Linked DNA regions of Homo sapiens: region 1 is linked to region 2. The links come from fine-mapping of genetic effects on gene expression. Tissue or cell type: whole blood. Region 2 holds a variant in brackets; the other region holds the start of a gene. All regions are shown on one strand. Distances are from middle to middle.

Region 1 (5,377 bases), 83 kb after region 2:
GGCTTAGGTTTTGTAACCAATAAAAAAAAAACTGCTATCAAATATGTAAAAAGCAATGCAAAAATTAGCCAGGCGTGGTGGCAGGCACCTGTAGTCCCAGCTGCTCAGGAGGCTGAGGCAGGAGAATCGCTTGAACCTGGGAGGCAGGAGTTGCAGTGAGCTGAGATTGCACCACTGCACTCCAGCCTGGGCGACACAGCGAGACTCCATCACCAAAAAAAAAAAAAAATCACAACCAGAACAAAGTTTTCCGTCGCTTGTGTTCCAAAATAACTTTTCTTAGGCTGCTTTCTATTATTTTGATTGAGGTGTATGCCTATCTCAATCCATTGGTAATCAGAATTAGAGATAATTATTCATTTTTCCATCTTTTAAGATGTTTAGCCAAAGTCCCTGCCTGACACAGCTAGAACAATAAATACTGGCTGAGTGTAAAGCATTAAAGGTATGAATTAAAACACCACATGAGACACATGACTTCCTCCATCCTTCTATTTACTCCTAACCAGACCACTAAATAAGGTGTGATTGTTGGGCATCTCTCCCACAGTTCAAGGTAACATGAGAGTAATCTGGCATGTCATTCCTGCCTCTCAGCAGATGAAAAGAAAAAACTGATACTTGTGATAAATATTGGGTTGGGGCTAAAATGACTGGAACCTGTGCAGGAAAACCCTTAGAGGACTTAAGGAGGGCAGAAATCTTAGACCTGTCTGTGAATCACATTCCCACACTCAGGCACCACTGGTGGGGAACACCTTGTATTCTGTCTTCCTGCTACATGTAGTATTTGAAGATGGGAGATGAGAGCAGCTGCAAGCACGTGTCACAAGGAGTCCATGCTGGACCCCAAGATTTTCCCTCACAGCTGTCCCCTTCCCAAAAACCACAAGAATGAACCCCCAGAGACCTTCTCTCCCTCCTTCTCTCCACTTCAATGAAGTGTGTACCTATCTTTTCACACACAAATGAGATCCCCTTCTTCCCCCTCCATCAGTCCATTCTCACCTTCTCCTTCAAACATTTTAGTCACATCCTCCCACAGGGGCGCCCCCTCCACGGCCTTCTTTGGATGTTGCAGCTTCACCCAGGTGCTGGCCTCGGTAGGCAGGGTGATCAGGAGCTGCTGTGGCATGATGCCTGCCTTACTGGACTTGTCCACTTCTGGTGAGGAAATTGCCAGAAGCTCTTGATGAGACGCTTCACAGTTGTGGGGTGTTGCTCAGATTCCAATCACCTGCCCTCAGGACTCTGGTGTGTCCCTGCAGCACCAGGACCTGGGGGTTCCTAGAGACTGATGTGACTTTAACAATTCTGGAAAACAAACTCCCCTTTAAATCAAGCACTTTCTTTGGGAGGCAGCCAGTTAGTTAGGTTTGAGTTCATGTCTCCATACTCTTTAGAGGAGCAAAAGGGAAGGGAAGAGGGATCCAGAAGCACTTGTCTCCAGAACTCCAGAATCTGCAGAAATATATTTAAAACTGCAAAATACCCAAAAGAAAAATATCCATGCAGGAATAAATATAATACATGTTCCTGGACGTGGCTCTATCTCCAGTTCTATACATACATACACAAACATGCAAAGATGTACAAACATGCACAGACCATGCCTCATCTTCCCTCCTTGTAAGCTGCATGCATCTTCTGCCTGGACACAGACGGGGTTTAAGAGGGCAGGCTTTGAAATCAGACAGCCTGGCTTAGAAACCTGACACTTGCACTTAAAAGCTCTATGACACTTCAACTCTCAGCTTCAGTTTCTTAATCTATAAAATGGAGATAATAATTGTATTCTATAGAGTTGTAATGTTGGTTGAGACAATGCTAGGCATACAGTAAACCCTTAATGAACATTGTTATAAACCTGTTATCATATTGCTGAATCATAGTATTAATTTTTAAAGTTATTTTTAGAAACCATTAAATCTGAATTTAAAGTTCAAAATATCTCAACTGACAGAATAATGACATAGCTGCATTTTGGCATGAACAAGCAGTGACAGCCACGTCACCACCCACGCAGATGCCCAGCAGCTGGCAAGTTCCTTGGAACCACACTGGGAAGATGCATCTTGGTTTCAGAAATGTTAAAATTGGGGAAGAGGGTATGTCTTCAAATGGTGTAAATTTAGTATAATGAGGACTACTGCAGAATAGTAATAGGCAAATTTGGAAACAACTCAAATCCATCATCTCAACCAAACCCTAGAATCTGAGCAGGTGCTTTGACCGTGACCAGGTCCAAAGTATACGGCACTCCAAGAACAGTCGGAGCTACGTGGGAAGGGAGCTGGCCCAACTTTTTGAAGTTTGTTGGAGAAGGATGGGTATGTGACTTATAGGCGTGTGTGTGTGTGTGTGTGTGTGTGTGACTATATGCAGAGACAGGAGCTGCGTGTGTTCTAGGAATTGGAGCTTGTGAGAAATATCCCACCCCTGAATACATAAAAAGTCTTGTTACCAAAGTGCACGAATTTTCGAATCTTACTCGGGAAACAGTTAATGGCTGAGAAGCTTCATATCGAAGATGCCCCACCCTCACAGTGCTCCCAGACATGCCACCCTCGGACTCAAAGACTGCACACAGACTCCTACTCACCACATCGGCCTTGGACCCAGGTAGGACCAGAGACGGGGGCGTGGGAGTGCTCACTCTTGAGGTTTTCAGCGGTAAAGAGTGTCTCTTTAGAGACGGACTGAGTGGTAACAGATATTGTTCCCTCCCGGCCTTTTATAGACAGACCACATCTCCACTCAACGCAATCATTCTCCAAGAAGCGTCCAGCGTTGAGGTCGGCTTCCTTCGGAAGCCCGGAGGACCCTCGGCCTCCGGAGTGGACGAGGGTCTGCTCCACATTCCCATCAAGGGCCCGCCCAGGCGGGTGGGCTTTCCCAGCAGCGCCCCCAGGAGCGAGGCTTTGAGGGCCGGAATGGGAGGGATGCCCTGAGCCGGCGTCTTGCAGACCCCGGGGAGGATACACCTCCCTGGCTGCCGCTTTAACACGGGGCTGGCGGCTGCAGCCAAGCCCACCCAGCCTGGCCTCTTAGGCCGCAGCCGGGTGTCTCGCCTGGCCTCTGCCTCCGGCCGCGCCCTCCCGGCCGCTTGCACCGCCGGCCGCTCTCGCTGCAGCCCTGGCGGTCCCGGGGCCCACCCCACGCGGTCCCGCTGCAGCTGCCACAACCCGCGCGTCTTCCGGCGGGTTGTGAGCCCCGGCCGCCGGCTCCGCCCACAGGGGGCTGCCACGGAGCCCGCCCTCTCCCGGGAAGCAGCGCGCGCCCTCGAACCCGGAAGCTGGAAGCCGCCCGAGCGCGCCCCCGAGGGCCGTCCGGAACCGTGGGTAGCGGCCACCCACCCACGCCGCCCCCCGTTTCCTCACAGCGGTCCTTGGGAGACCTCCTTCAGCCTTTCCGGTGAAGCGCCTTCCCTGTCATTCATTCATTCACTCATTCATTCATTCATTCATTCAGTTATCTATTCTGAGTGTGTAAGATCTACCCCCACATTCTTATTGGCCCTGCGTATACAGCAGTTAACAAAACGCAGTTCCTGCTTTCTTGGAACTTAATTACATTGAAATTAATTGACAATAACAAATAGAAAAATAAATAGATAATACCCCAGGCGATTGTGAGGACCATGAAGAAAAGGAAAGCAGGGTGGGGAGATGATGGGCTAGGATATTTGTATCAACCCACTGTAGAAAACAACAATAAAATTTAAAAATAAAATTCTGGAATACGTGTGTGTGTGTGTGTGTGTGTATGTGTATATATATATACATATATATATAATATATAAATTTGTTTTTGAGACGGAGTTTCGCTCTTGTTGCCCAAGCTGGAGTGCAGTGGCGCGATGTTGGCTCACCGCAACCTCTGCCTCCCGGGTTCAAGTGATTCTCCTGCCTCAGCCTCCAGAGTAGCTGGGATTACAGGCACGCATCACCATGCCTGTAATTTTGTATTTTTAGTAGAGATGGGGTTTCTCCATGCCTGAGCGACAAGAGCAAAACTCCATCTCAAAAAAAAAAAAAAAAGAAGAAGAAGAAGAAGACCCTCCTTACAATAACTGGGACCCCAAAGGGCAACAGCCTCAGGGTGAGGATGAATTGAAAATGGAACAGCTTAAAAGGAATTTACAGACTGCATCAAATTGCCTGTCTCAGACATTATCTTGGTTTAAGACTGTCTCTGACTATGGTGTCACCAGATGCTTGGCAAAAGCAAATAGGTGGAGGAAAGCCTTATAATTGTAGGGCCGACATTTTTCCTACACATAAGTTTTCATAGACAATGTCAAATACAGAATTAAAGATAACCAGGTACACAAAGAAACTAGATTCTTAGTGAGAACCAGCAGAAACACAAACATTGGAAATAGACCTGCAGAAACAACTGCTTTTAGAATTATTTGATGCAAACCGCAAAATAATATTTTCTTGGGCTGGACACAGTGGTTTATGTCTATAATCCCAGCACTTTGGGAGGCCAAGGCAGGTGGATTGCTTGAGCTCGGGAGTTCAAGACCAGCCTGGGCAACATGGCAAAACCCTGTCTCTACAAAATATCAAAAATTAGCCAGGTATGGTGGCACAGCCCTGAAGTCCCAGCTCTTCAAGAGGCTGAGATGGGAGGATCGCTTGAGCCCAGCAGGTTGATGCTGCAGTAAGTCACGATCATACCACTGCCCTTCAGCCTGGGTGACAGAGCAAGACCCTGGCTTAAAACATATGTATATTTTCTTGCTTACCTATTAGAGTTTTTAGGAAAAAAAGTAAAATAAAATCATATTTTCTTTGCCTGAAGAAATAAAAAAGATAACTTGGACAATTTTGGCAGGTACCTAAAAACTATACAAAGTGATAGAGCAGATTTAAAAAAAGAAGTAAATAGACTTCTCTTCTATGATTGAGAAATACAGTAACTAAATTAAGAACTCAGTTAATGGCAGATTAGACACTGCTGAATGTAGAATAAATTGAAAGGAAGGTAGGTCACAAGAAATTATCTAGAATAAAGCATTGAGAAACAAAAAATGTACCCTACAGAAGACAGAGTAAGAGAGATAGAGAATACAGTAAGAGGATCGAACTAAGTTTAACGAGAGATAAAGCTAGGGCAGAGACAGTATTTGAAGAAATAAGGGCTGAATATTTTTAGTACCTATGAAAGGAACCAGGTCACAGATATAAGATGCCATATAACTCTCTAGTGGGATAAATAAAAGAAACCCTTTTATTTATCTAGTCAAAGAAATCTACACCTAGTAGAAGAAATCCACGCATTATAGTAAAACTACAAATTGTTATAGAACCAAACTGGGGTCCACTTGCCTGGTGCAGTAAAAACAGAACAAAGTAAAAAACATGACTAA
Region 2 (5,377 bases):
ACTAAAAATACAAAATTAGCCGGGCATGGTGGCACATGCTTGTAATCCCAGCTACTCGGGAGGCTGAGGCAGGAGAATTGCTTGAAGGCGGGAGGCAGAGGTTGCAGTGAGCCAAGATCGCGCCATTGCACTCCAGCCTGGGCGACAAGAGCAATACTCCATCTCAAAAAAAAAAAAGAAAAAGAAATGTACATTCAGATAACAATGAGACATTATTTCTCTCAACCCATTGGGCAAAGATTAAGACTTATAATATTCATTAGTGAGGGTATGAGGAAACAGATACCCTCATATGCCGTTGGAAGGAGTATCAATTGTTATAAACTTTTTTTGGGGAGCAATTTGGCAATATTTATTAAACATCTTTTGACCCAGCAATTCCAATTTCAGAAATTCATCTTCATTAAGATAACTAATGACTTCCTTGCCACTAAATCCAATGGAAAGTTTTCAATCCTTTTTATACTTGATTTCTTGACATTATTTGGCCCTGTTGACTACACAGTCTTCCTCAAAACTCTTTCCTCTCATAGTAACCTGGTTTCCTCTCATAGTAACCTGGTTTTTCTCTTACCTCTCTGATCACTCTCAATCTCCTTTACTCATCAATGTTGGGGTTCCCCAGGTTGGAACCTAAGCCCTCTTCTTACTCTACTTACTCCTCCTATGTGATGTCATCTATTCGTATAGCTTCAAATGCCATTTGAATGCTGACAACTCAAATGTACACTTGCAGCTGAGACCTCAAGCCAGACAGTTACAGACCCAAGTACGTGCCAGATGAATATCCAGTTTGAAACACAGTGCCTGACTTAGAATAGGTAATCAATAAATATCTACCCAATGAAACAAACACCTACTTGGATGTCTCAAAGGCATCTAAATTAACATGCTAAATTCCAACTTTATCTCCTGCTTTTCTTTCATGTTTAGGAAATGATCAGGAAATTGAGTTCAGGAAATCATACCTCCAACCACCAAAATGTTTAAGTCAGAAAAATATGAGTCATCCTTGATTTCTTTTTCTCCCTCCTCCCTCACATCTGCTCCATCACTAAATCTAAATATCTCTTTGCTGGGTGTGGTGGCTGACGCCTGTAATCCCAACACCATGAGAGGCCCAAGTGGGAAGATCATTTGAGCCCAGGAGTTCAAGACCAGCCTGGGCAATATAGGGAGACTCCATCTTTACCAAAAAGAAAAAAAATAAGGCCAGGCGTGGTGGCTCATGCCTGTAATCCCAGCACTTTGGGAGGCCGAGGCAAGCAGATCACCTGAGGACGGGAGTTCGAGACCAGCCTGACCAACATGGAGAAACCCCATCTCTACTAGAAATACAAAATTATCTGGCTGTGGTGGTGTATGCCAGCTACTTGGGAGGCTGAGGCAGGAGAATCACTTGAACCCAGGAGGCGGAGGTTGCAGTGAGCTGAGATTGCGCCATTGCACTCCAGCCTGTGCAACAAGAGTGAAAAATCCATCTCAAAAGAAAAAGAAAGAAAAAAAAATAGCTGGGTGTGGTGGCATGCACCTGTAGTCCCAACTACTCAAGAGGCCGAGATAGGAAGATCACTTGAGCCCAGGAGGACGAGGCTGCAGTGAGCCATGATTGCACCACTGTGTTCCAGCCTGGGTGACAGAGAGAGACCTTGTCGCTAAATAAATAAATAAATAAGTATCTCTGCTGCCACCACTTTTTTCTGAGCCACTGTGATCTCTCACCTCTCCTCCTAGTTGGTCTATATACCATGTTGCCTTTCTGCAATATAATCTCCTCTTTTTATGCCCATTTCTTAAATATTTGTGTTCCTCAAGGTTCTTCTCTGTTTCTTTTTCTTCTCTTCTTACGTATCAACCAAGTCCATGGCTTTAATGACCAATCTATGGTGACAACTCATAAATTTGTACCTTTACCCGGGATCTCTCTCAGACCTTGATATCTACTACCTACCATCTAGACTTCTTTAATTGGATGTCCCACAGGCACTTCAAATTTTTTTTTATTTACAATTGTTTTATTTGTGTTCCTCATGCTACAACACAACCTTAAAAGTCAGCCAAGTATATAACATTAATATGCCTCCTCAAAACATCAACTTAGATAACCCATAGCCAGAGCTTCTAAACTTCTACAATGCAACTTCAACATTCAAAAGAGCACAATATGCTTCAAATCCCATCTCAATGCAAATTTAAGAAAAGCAAAGCAAATTGTATTATCAGACTACGAAAACTCAGTACGATTCTGTAATTTAACATACTACTTCTCAACTCTCTAAATTTGTTTCTCAACACTGGGGAGAGTTTTTAAAGATATCAGTGCCTGAATTCTACTCCAAGCCAATCAAATCAGAATCTCTCTGGGGCATTTTTTTGTTAAAGCTTCCCCAGCAACTCTAATGTCAGCGAGAGTTGGGAATCACTGCTTAACAGAACCTCTTATGAAGCAAAAACATAAAGAAAAATAAGCCGGGCACAGTGGCTCACGCCTGTAATCCCAGCACTTTGGGAGGCCAAGGCGGGCAGATCACCTGAGGTCAGGAGTTTGAGACCAGCCTGGCCAACATGGTGAAACCCCATCTCTATTAAAAATATAAGTATTAGCTGGGTGTGGTGGCACGTGCCTGTAATCTCAGCTACTCGGGAGGCTGAGGCAGGAGAATCGCTTGAACCAAGGAGGCAGAGGTTGC[G/A]GTGAGCCCAGATCGTGCCACTTTACTCTAGCCTAGGTGACAGAGCGAGCCTCCATCTCAAAAAAAAAAAAAAAAAAAAAAAAAAAAAAAGATAAAGCACAGGAAGTAAGTATAGGGACATGGGGAATAAGTTAAAAATCAAAAGGACTCACTCATTGCTTTCCAACATCTTTTTCTTCTTGACCTTTTGAAACGTCCAAAAATTCGTAATATTACAATCTGTGTCATGATAATAAAACAGTTAAGAAAAAAACATAAAATGAAGGCCTACAAAGATCTTTGTTATTCATCTAGAATTATTTGGTATAACAGTATTTTCTAATGGAGGAAGACTATTGGATTTCAGGCATAAAACAATGCAGAAAAAATCTCAAGGCATCACAGGGAGAGGGAGATAACTTCTGACTCTGGTTTCCTGTGTTTCAGGCCAGGAAGAGCAAGGGGAGAAAAAGATTTGTCCATGGGAACAAGTACTCATGCTCTAAAGGACAATTTCATTTGAACCCACTAATTTCCTTTTCATGAAAAATTTCAAAGATAAAGCAACATAAAATATGAGGACAAAGAAAAGGGAGACGGTCTTCAAGGAGAATTTGTGCCTTTAAGTTTTTACTGGTACCTCAGTCCTTCAGCCTGGAGCTACTCAAAGATGAATCATGAAAAAGAAAAAAACTGTATTTCAAACAGGTTCAGTGGTGTATGTGTGTGCTACAGCAAAAGCTGGTTGTAGCAAAGTTTCATTTCAAACTGTATGATTTGGGCTGCGCAAGGTGGCTCATGCCTGTAATCCCAGCACTTTGGGAGGCCAAGGTGGGCTGATCACCCTGAGGTCAGGAGAGACCAGCCTGGCCAACATGTTGAAACCCCATCTCTACTAAAAATACAAAAATTAGCCAGGTGTGGTGGCACGGGCCTGTAATCTCAGCTACTCAGGAGGTTGAGGCAGGAGAATCGCTTGAACCCAGGAGGCAGAGGTTGCAGTGAGCCGAGATCGTACCACTGCACTCCAGCCTGGGTGACAGAGTGAGCCCACCGCTGCACTGTGGGAACCCCTCTCTGGGCTGGCCTAGGCTGGAGCCGGCTTCCTCGGCTTGTGGGGAGGTGTGGACAGAGAGGCGCGGGCGGGAACCGGGGCTGCGTGCCGCGCTGGCAGGCCAGCGCGAGTTCCGGGTGGGCGTGGGCTCTGCGGGCCCCACACTCCAAGCGGCCGGCTGGGCGCCGCTGGCCCCAGGCAGTGCGGGGCTTAGCACCCAGGCCAGCAGCTGCGGAGGTCCCCCAGCAGTGCTGACCCGCCAGCGCTGAGCTCGAATTCTCGCTGGGCCTCAGCTGCCTCCCCGCGGGGCAGGGCTGGGGACCTGCAGCCCGCCATGCCCGAGCCTCCCCCCCGCAGTGGGCTCCTGCACGGCCGGAGCATCCCCGATGAGCGCCACCGTCTGCTCTGCTGTGCCTGGTCCCATCCACCACCCAGGGGCTGAGGAGTGCGGGCACAGGGCACGGGACTGGCGGGCGGATCCACTAGGTGAAGCCAGTTGGGCTCCTGAGTCTAGTGGGGACTTGGAGAACTTTTATGTCTAGCTGGAGGGCTGTATACACACCAATCAGCACCCTGTGTCTAGCTTAAGGTTTGTAAATGCACCAAACAGTGCTTTGTGTCTAGCTAATCTAGTGGGGACTTGGAGAACCTTTATGTCTAGCTAAAGGATTGCAAATACACCAATCAGCACTCTGTGTGTAGCTTAAGGTTTGTAAATGCACCAATCAGCACTCTGTATCTAGCTAATCTGGTGGGGACTTGGAGAACCTTTATGTCCAGCTAAGGGATTGTAAATACACCACTCAGCACTCTGAGTCTAGCTCAAGGTTTGTAAACACACCAATCAGCACTCTGAGTCTAGCTCAAGGTATGTAAACACACCAATCAGCACCCTGTATCTAGCTCAAGGTTTGTAAACGCACCAATCAGTGCCCTGTGTCTAGCTAATCTGGTGGGGACTTGGAGAACCTTTATGTCTAGCTAAGGGATTGTAAATACACCAGTCAGCACTCTGTGTCTAGCTCAAGGTTTGTAAACACACCAATCAGCACCCTGTGTCTAGCTTAAGGTTTGTAAATGCACCAATCAGTGCTCTGTGTCTAGCTAATCTGGTGGGGACTTGGAGAACCTTTATGTCTAGCTAAGGAATTGTAAATACACCAATCAGCACTCTGTGTCTAGCTCAAGGTTTGTAAACACACCAGTCAGCACCCTGTGTCTAGCTCAAGGTTTGTAAACACACCAATCAGTGCTCTGTGTCTAGCTAATCTAGTGGGAACTTGGAGAACTTTTGTGTCTAGCTCAGGGATTGTAAATGCATCAATCAGCTCTCTGTAAAACAGACCAATCAAAACAGACCCTGTCAAAATGGACCAATCAGCTCTCTGTAAAACAGACCAATCAGCTCTCTATAAAATGGACCAATCAGCAGGATGTGGGTGGGGCCAGATAAGGGAATAAAAGCAGGCTGCCAGAGCCAGCAGTGGCAGCTCACTGGCATTCCATTCCACCTTGTGGATGCTTTGTTCTTTTGCTGTTTGCAATAAATCTTGCTGCTGCACACTCTTTGGCTCCACAGTGCCTTTATGAGCTGTAACACTCACCACGAAGGTCTGCTGCTTCTCTCCTGAGGTTAGCGAGACGCCGACTCCAA

Direction of the effects. Positions count from the first base shown, and alleles are read on the strand shown. Sizes are in standard deviations (SD) of each study's normalised expression.
For the expression in whole blood of the gene that starts at base 3,207 in region 1, allele A in region 2 goes with a lower level than allele G (small effect, 0.34 SD a copy in Lepik 2017).

Evidence for each region. PIP is the estimated chance that this variant, and not a neighbour inherited with it, causes the effect.
Region 1: ZFP69 starts here. The variant in region 2 is the best candidate, but not a certain one, in a credible set for the expression of ZFP69 in whole blood (Lepik 2017, PIP 0.55).

What each region holds. Positions count from the first base shown.
Region 1 is chr1:40,475,120-40,480,496 of GRCh38, reverse strand. ZFP69 (ZFP69 zinc finger protein) reads right to left here and starts at 3,207. Exons shown (of 6, transcript NM_001320179.2): 1 at 2,603-3,207; 2 at 1,009-1,461. The coding sequence starts at 1,135. RefSeq lists a silencer at 2,999-3,468.
Region 2 is chr1:40,557,677-40,563,053 of GRCh38, reverse strand. It overlaps the pseudogene LOC100328982. Among named protein-coding and RNA genes, the nearest start is that of ZNF684, 29 kb to the right of the region's middle. The variant G/A (reference allele first, on the strand shown) is at 2,691.